Linked DNA regions of Homo sapiens: region 2 is linked to region 1. Evidence: fine-mapped expression QTL. A gene starts in region 1. The other region holds a variant in brackets. All regions are shown on one strand. Distances are between the middles of the regions. Region 1 holds the start of FGL2 (fibrinogen like 2). Region 2 overlaps GSAP (gamma-secretase activating protein).

Region 1 (4,393 bases):
GATGATTCTAACTCTCCTAGAACTGTATTCCTTGCATACAGAGGAAGCACAGGCTTCTATTTTCTTTCACCTAAAGGGGCTGATAGCCTCTACTGTCAGAAGGTTTTATAGCATATATTCCAAATGATGTGTTAAAATCCTAATGCATAGGATTGATCATAAATTCATATTCATTTCACTTGACAACTATATAAAGAAGCTCAAGTGAAAAAGAAGTATCTTTTTCAATGACACACCAATATTCTTATTCTGTATTTATTATCTAGGAAAGTATTTAGCCACTATTTCACATGTTGGGTTTCTAGAAAGAAACAACAGGTGACTATATTGAGGATAAGCATAATAATCAGTTAACAAAGTTCTGTATGAATCAGACAGATATTTACTCCCAGATAGTTTTTATTAAAATGTGTGACAAATAAGGTAAGTTTAATATGAGATACCCTAAGGCATAAAAATCTATTCCTGTATATTTAGAGCTCAGAATATTCAGTTATTTCACCCAAAATGTTTAGGAGAAAAATAGACAATAGTCTTCATATCATGACAAGTTGCCATGCAGCATCTAATCTAATGTATACCCACTGATGTCACCTAAGCGGTGAACCTTGGATTCGCAGTGTGCCAGGTACATTCAGATGCAGGCTGCCAGGAGTATTACCAATAGAGGTCCTTGAAAATATGACCCTTCCCTCCTTCACTGGCAGATGCCCTGGGGATGGAGCATGCCTGAGATACTGTCTCTAAATGAAAGTGATCTCCGCCCTGTCCTTTCAACCTCACGTTCATGGTAAGTAGAGGTCCAAATGCGGAGATGGCTTTCCAAAGTATGAGACAGTCAGCAACAGTGGTCCCAGTGACTCAGGTGAAAAGCCAAGGTTTGGAGAGTCAATACCACTGTTAGTTCGTGGGTGGAGTAGGCGATTAAGTCTGTGGAATTTCACATGTATTTATTAAAGTTAATTCAAGTAATTTGGATGGTGAGGATGGGTTCTACTTCTATCTGCTTGAATTCTAACTTCAGGTAAAAGAGAAAGAAATATGAATACCTTCCCTTAGTGGCATGCTAAAACTCTCCCCTTAAAATATTTTTTGTGCCACTAGGTCTCAAAGCAAAAATTTGTGCACACATATGAAACTGCTTTTATTCCATCTGTAAACTCTCCCATTTTCTCCAGATATTTGGGATTAAGAACTAGATTACTTGCTAAAATCTTTCAAAGACCTCTTTAGCCATGAGAAGCGGCAGTCAGTCAATCACAAGAAAAACTGATTTCCAACAAACAAGGCACAATTGTGAACATCGCCTTATCTTTATTGTTTTCAAACACCTCATTGAAGAGACAAGTTAAATGCACTAAAACATCAAGAAATTCTCTCTACTTCTGCTTGCAAGTAGGTCTGGCATTAACAAATAAGATCTTAAAATTGAAAGTGACTTCCAGTGGATACAGAACTAACTATGATTTTTGTAATTAGGTCATATTTATGTGGTCATATTTGAGAAGATATTTATTTTTTCCTGTGCACCTTGATAAATAAAAGACTTAATCTGTCATCTATTTAACTTACTGACTCAGGTTAATGTTTATAGATACTCTCTAGCTGTATAACATTTATGAACATATGATAAGAAAACATTATTATACATACCTGGACGTGACTGTATTTGTTCTTGGCTGGGACACTTTGAACATTTGCCATCCAAACTATTGACAACAAATGTTAGATTTGCCACTTTGCTGTCAACATAATTTTCTATGTTGTTCATATTTACAAGATTCAGCTTCTCCAGGCGACCATGAAGTACATTGATCTCCTCTTTGGCATTCTTTAGCTCAGAGGACAGCTTGTTAACCTCACTCTCTAATTCTCTAACTCTGTTATCACCAACCTCTCCCGGGGCTCCTGTACTGGGTAACAACAGTCCGTTTCTGCCTGGGTCTCCGTTGTCATCAGCCTGCAGCTTGCAGTCTTGGCAAGATTTCTTTAGACTATTTACGATTTCCTTGAGGTTTTGGACTTCTTTGAACACCTCCTCGATCCTGCTGAATTGCTTCGGGAGCTGAATAGTCAAGGGGGGCAGGCTTACCTGGTAGGGGCACTCCCCTGCCTCTTCGCATTTCCCTCTGCTTTCTAGTCTCACTGGGCAGACATCCTTTGCTCTTTCATCTTTAATTTCCTCTGTTTCATTGTTTGCCACAACCAAAAAACCGTAAGTGGCAAGAACAGCTGAGCTCAGCCAGTACCAGTTAGCCAGCTTCATCTTTACAGTGCTGCTCACCCCAGCAGGGAGTGCGCAGGGCTGGAGCTGCTTTAATAGCGGCAGCTGCCTGAGTCAGGCTTTCTGTGTTCCCAGGAAAGGGTGGGAGCGTTTGCATCACAAGTTTTAGAAACGCACAGGAAGAGGAGATAGCCCTCATCAAACGCAGTTTGCCAAAAACTGTAACTTACTCTCAATAGAAATAATATGCATTGAAATTATTATAGTCAAATGTACACAGCCAACAAGATTCACTTTCATAATGTATTTTATGAAGTATAAGAAAAGTCTTGCATTTCTAAAGTAATTTGGTATACTTACGCTTGAAGTAAATAATTATACGTAACTTCACTGGAAAAACAGTTTTTAAAGATAAAAAGTAAGAGCTAGTTATCCAAACTGTCTATAGAACAGAAACGTTACTAAAATGAAAATGGTCCTTTTTCCTTCTTAGAATGGGGCATTGGGGAGCCTGTATTTTCTTCATGTTGGACTTTCAGGTGAAATCTTAAGCACTTTTAGAAGTTTCTAAGTGTAACAAAGTACAGCTTTCTGACTATTGCAGTTGACTTTTGCTTCATCTACTTGAAAAAGAGAAGAAAACTAGTGGAGAAAAAAGTGCTACTTTCTATTCCTTTGTCCGTAGCATAGTGTATATTAATGTCTAAATGTCTAAGACCCATTTAAAAGGACATAATTGTCTTTCATCAAAACCAGTAGCTGCCTCCTTTGCCCTTCGACATTTTGGTAATTGTACTGTCATCTTCCACAGCTGCTCAAATGTGAATCTTTGAGCTATGCCAGTGTCTGTCCTGAACTTCTCTTGCCTACAGCATCTTTGCCCTTTCTTTCTGCAGGTAGCCCTGGCAGGCGGGCCTCTTGCTTTCTGTCTCCACGCTGGTTCTTCTACCTGCTCTCTGGGCCACTTGGTATATCAGCTTGTTCAAAACATGTAGCATTAATGATAATAGTTTTCTAACTTTCTCTTCAGAGGCTGAAGGCAGGAAAGAGGAACAGCTTCAGTTAGAGAAACCACCTCCTTTTAATTTGTTTTGCATATTGACATCTCATAAGATTTCTTGTTTAAAAAGGGTTTTTTTGCTTTAAAAATAATTTCAAAATGACTGACATGGGCAAAAATCTAAATGTTTTATTGTATTACTTAAAACACTCTGTAGCCTATCTCATATTTATGTCTTTAACCTGATTTCCTATGACTTTTCTGTATATCCCCTTAATTTTAGCCAAATCCTATTCACATTCTCAAAATGTTGGCAGACTCTTTACTCTTCCATGACTGTATTTATTCTCGCATACTCAGGAGACCTGGCTTCCAACCCTAGATCTACCTCTGATCATGTAAACAGATCATCAGCTTTAATGAGCCTTTGTTCCTGTAGCTGTAGCGGAGGAATTTAGCTATTTCTTCCCTCATACAGGAATGATAGTCATGCAAACTTGGAGCACTTGGCTGGGCGTGGTGGCTCACGCCTGTAATCCCAACACATTGGGAGGCCGAGGCATGTGGATCACCTGAGATCAGGAGTTTGAGACCAACCTGGCCAACATGGTGAAACCCCATCTCTACTAAAAATACAAAAAAAAAAAAAAAAATTAGCCAGGTATGGTGGCGTGTGCCTGTAATCCCAGCTACTCGGGAGGCTGAGGCAGGAGAATCACTTGAACCCAGGAGGTGGAGGTTGCAGTGAGCCTAGATCGTACCACTGCACTCCAGCCTGGGCAATAAGAGTGAAACTCCATCCCCCAGCCCCACCCCTCACAAAAAAAGAAAAAAAAAACTTAGAGCACTTAAGAAAAAAAAAAATGCAGTGTATAAATGTAACATTCTTCCCAAATAAATTTGTCAAACATGTTCTACACACCTTATGACTTTTTTTCTTCCATCTTCATATAGCTCTTTCAAAAATTGTTTTTCTCTTCATTCCATTCAATATATCCAATTTTAGACAAAAACTTTTTAGCTAAAAATATCTATTTAATCCCCTAACTCCTAACCTCATTTCTTCTCACCTATTTTCAAGCTGTGACACTTCCCTGTTGGGAGGTAAGAAATAAATGAAACAATAGATAATTTTAAAAAGGAGACATGATGACAACATAGATAAAAAA
Region 2 (4,393 bases), 150 kb after region 1:
TTCGCATCTCCCCTTGTATCTCCCCACCTTAATCCACAAGTATAGGACATCTCTACTCCCCCCTTGGCGACCAATCATGCACCCCTTACCATCCCATTAAAACCTAATCACCCTTACACTGCTCAATGCCAATATTCCATCCCACAGCACACTTTAAAAGGATTAAAGCCTGTTATCACTTGCCTATTACAGCATGGCCTTTTAAAGCCTGTAAACTCTCCTTACAATTCCCCTATTTTACCTGTCCAAAAACCAGACAAGCCTTACAGGTTAGCTCAGGATCTGCGACTTATCAACCAAATTGTTTTGCCTATCCACCCCACAGTGCCAAACCTATATACTCTCCTATCCTCAATACCTCCCTCCACAACCCATTATTCTATTCTAGATAAACCTAGTTGACCCCATAGATCCTAAATCCTTTCCCCACTCTCCTTTCCATTCCTTAAAAAACAGCTCCCACACTAGCTCTCCCTAACTTATCACTCCCTTTTCATTACACACAGCCAAAGTGCAGGGCTGTATGGTTGGAGTTCTCACACAAGAGACGGGACCGTGTTCTGCAGCCTTTCTGTCCAAACAACTTGATCTTACTGTTTTAGCCTAGCCTTCATGTCTGTGTGTGGCAGCTGCCGCGCTTTAATACTTTTAGAGGCCCTCAAAATCACAAACTATGCTCAACTCACTCTCTACAGTTCTCATAACTTCCAAAATCTATTTTCTTCCTCACACCTGACGCATATACTTTCTGCCCCCCTCCACTACCTCTCAGCAAGCCGAACTCATTGCCTTAACTCAAGCCCTCAATCTTGCAAAAGGACTACGCATCAATATTTATACTGACTCTAAATATGCCTTCCATATCCTGCACCTCCATGCTGTTATATAATAGGCAAAAAGAGGTTTCCTCACTATGCAAGGGTCCTCCATCATTAATGCCTCTTTAATAAAAACTCTTCTCAAGGCCACTTTACTTCCAAAGGAAGCTGGAGTCATTCACTGCAAAGGCCATCAAAAGGTGTCAGATCCCATCGCTCAAGGCAACGCTTATGCTGATAAGGTAGCTAAAGAAGCAGCTAGCATTCCAATTTCTGTCCCTCACTGCCAGTTTTTCTCCTTCTCATCGGTCACTTCCACCTACTCCCCCACTGACTAACTTCTACCTATCAATCTCTTCCCACACAAGACAAATGGTTCTTAGACCAAGGAAAATTATCTCCTTCCAGCCTCACAGGCCCATTCTATTCTGTCATCATTTCATAACCTCTTCCATATAGGTTATAAGCCGCTAGCCCATCTCTTAGAACCTCTCGTTTCCTTTCCACCGTGGAAATCTATCCTCAAGGAAATCACTTCTCAGTGTTCCATCTGCTATTCTACTACTCTTCAGGGATTGTTTAGGCCCCCTCCCTTCCCTACACATCAAGCTTGAGGATTTGCCCCTGCCCAGGACTGGCAAATTAATTTTACTCACATGCCCGGAGTCAGGAAACTAAAACACCTCTTGGTCTGGGTAGACACTTTCACTGGATGGGTAGAGGACTTTCCCACAGGGTCTGCGAAGGCCACCGTGGTCATTTCTTCCCTTCTGTCAGATATAATTCCTCGGTTTGGCCTTCCCACCTCTATACAGTCCAATAACACACAGGCCTTTACTAGTCAAATCACCCAAGCAGTTTCTCAGGCTCTTGGTATTCAGTGGAACCTTCAGGCCCCTTACCATCCTCAATCTTCAGGAAAGGTAAAATGGACTAATGGTCTTATAAAAACACACCTCGCCAAGTTCAGCCTCCAACTTAAAAAGGACTGGACAATACTTTTACCACTTGCCCTTCTCAGAATTCAGGCCTGTCCTCGGGATGCTACAGGGTACAGCCCATTTGAGCTTCTGTATGGACGCTCCTTTTTGTTAGGCTCCAGGCTCATTCCAGACACCAGCCCAACTTGGACTGCACCCCAAAAACTTGTCATCCGTACTATCTTCTGTCTAGTCATACTCCTATTCACTGTTCTCAACTACTCATAAATGTCCTGCTCTTGTTACACTGCTGGTTTACACTGTTGCTCCAAGCCATCACAGCTAGTATCTCCTGGTGCTATCCCCAACTGCCAGTCTTAACTCCCTTTTAGAGTGGATAGATGATCTTTGCTGACGGGGTACACTCCAATACTTTCACCCTGACGAAGTCCTATTCTTTACTTTTATACTCATT[A/C]TTATTCTTGTTCCCATTCTTATGCCACCCTCTACCTCTCCCCAGCTATCTCCACCACACTGCCAATCTCACTCTCACCTAGCCATTTCTAATCCTTCTTTAACAAACAATTGCTGGCTTTGCATTTCTCTTTCCTCCAAAATCGCTGAGGCCTCAACTTACTCACTGCAACAACAACAACAAAAAAAGAAAGGACTCTGTATATTTTTAAATGAAAAGTGTTGTTTTTACCTAAATCAGTCTGGCCTGGTATATGACAACATAAAAATCTAAAGGATAGAGCCTAAACTTGCCAACCAAGCAAGTAATTATGCTGAACCCCCTTGGGCACTCTCTAATTGGAGGTCCTCCCAATTATTAGTCCTTTAATATCTGTTTTTCTCATTCTCTTATTCAAACCTTGTATTTAGTTTCTCAATTCATCCAAAACCACATCCAGGCCATCACCAATCATTCTATACGACAAATGCTCCTTCTAACAACCCCACAATATCACCCCTTACCACAAAATCTTCCTTCAGCTTAATCTATACCACTCTAGGTTCCTATGCTGCCCCTAATCCTGCTCGAAGCAGCCCTGAGAAACATTGCCCATTATTGCTCCATATCACCCCCAAAAAATTTTTGCTGCCCCAACACTTCAATGCTATTTTATGTTATTTTTCTTATTAATATAAGAAGACAGGACTATCAGGCCTCTGAGCCCAAGCTAAGCCATCATATCCCCTGTGACCTGCACGTATACATCCAGATGGCCTGAAGGAAGTGAAGAATCACAAAAGAAGTGAAAATGGCCGGTTTCTGCCTTAACTGATGACATTCCACCATTGCGACTTGTTTCTGCCCCATCTTAACTGAGCGATTAACCTTGTGAAATTCCTTCTCCTGGCTCAGAAGCTCCCCCACTGAGCAACTTGTGACACACGCCCCTGCTCATAAGAGAAAACCCCCTTTAACTGTAATTTTTGACTACCCACCCAAATCCTATAAAACGGCCCCACCCCATCTCCCTTCGCTGACTCTTTTCGGACTCAGCCCGCCTGCACCCAGGTGATTAAAAAGCTCTATTGCTCACACAAAGCCTGTTTGGTGGTCTCTTCACCTGGACGCACGTGACATCCCTTTCATTGAATATCAATTTATCACAAAATAAGAATCAAATGCTATAAAAATCGTCATAGCCTTTCACCCAATGTTACCTCTGGGCTCTTAACCTTAGGGGAATAGATCAAAAGAAAAACTGTATGTATAAAAATGTTCACTTTGGGAGGCCGAGGTGGGCAGATCACCTGAGGTCAGGAGTTCGAGACCAGCCTGACCAACATGGTGAAACCCCGCCTCTACTAAAAATACAAAAATTATCCGGGCATAGTGGTGCACACCTGTAATCCCAGCTACTCAGGAGGCTGAGGCAGGAGAATCGCTTGAACCCAGGAGGCAGAGGCTGCAGTGAGCCGAGATCACACCAAAGCACTCCAGCCTGGGCAACGAGAATGAGACTCCATCTCAAAAAAAAAAAAAAAAAAAAGAAAGAAAGAAAAAAAATTCTCTGCAACATTATTTCTAACAGCAAAAAGAAATTTTTTTAATGGGGGCTAGGGACAAACTAAATGTCCAAAAAACAGAAGAACAATTGAGTTAAGGCACTGCAACCCAGCAGGGCATGGTGGCTCATACCTGTAATACCAACACTTTGGGAGGCCGAGTTAGGAGGATGGCTTTAGCTTAGGAGTTTGAAACTAGCTTGGGCAACATAGTAAGACCCTGTCTCTACCAAAAAAAAAAAAAAAAGTTTTAATTAACCAGACATGATGACATGTACGTGTAGTCCTAGCTACTCAGGAGGCTGAAGCAAGAGGACTGCTTGAGCCCAGGAGTTCAAGGTTGCAGTGAGCTGTGACTATGTCATTGCACTCCAGCCTGGGCAACAGAGTGAGACCCTACCTCAAAAAAAGAAAAAAAAAAAAGTATGACATACTTATTGTGGTGTTTTGTATGTATTAATTTTCATCCACCCACTCCTGGTTCACAATGCCCATAGCCTTTGTTACAGCCTGATGTTATAATATCGGGTATTTTAGGCTTCGGGACCAGGACTAGTCTCGGGAAACTCTCTCTCCTGCCTTCCTTTCACCTGCCCTAAGGCATGACTCTCCCCTCCACCACTCCCCACCACCACC

What was found. PIP is the estimated chance that this variant, and not a neighbour inherited with it, causes the effect. A credible set is the group of variants that fine-mapping cannot tell apart.
Region 2: its variant is the best candidate, but not a certain one, in a credible set for the expression of FGL2 in whole blood (TOPMed, PIP 0.81).

What each region holds. Positions count from the first base shown.
Region 1 is chr7:77,197,528-77,201,920 of GRCh38, forward strand. FGL2 (fibrinogen like 2) reads right to left here and starts at 2,292. Exons shown (of 2, transcript NM_006682.3): 1 at 1,654-2,292. The coding sequence starts at 2,266. The region is part of intron 2 of CCDC146 (coiled-coil domain containing 146); the gene reads left to right. RefSeq lists a silencer at 1,883-1,992.
Region 2 is chr7:77,342,550-77,346,942 of GRCh38, forward strand. All of the region lies in intron 19 of GSAP (gamma-secretase activating protein), which reads right to left. Among named protein-coding and RNA genes, the nearest start is that of GSAP, 72 kb to the right of the region's middle. The variant A/C (reference allele first, on the strand shown) is at 2,214.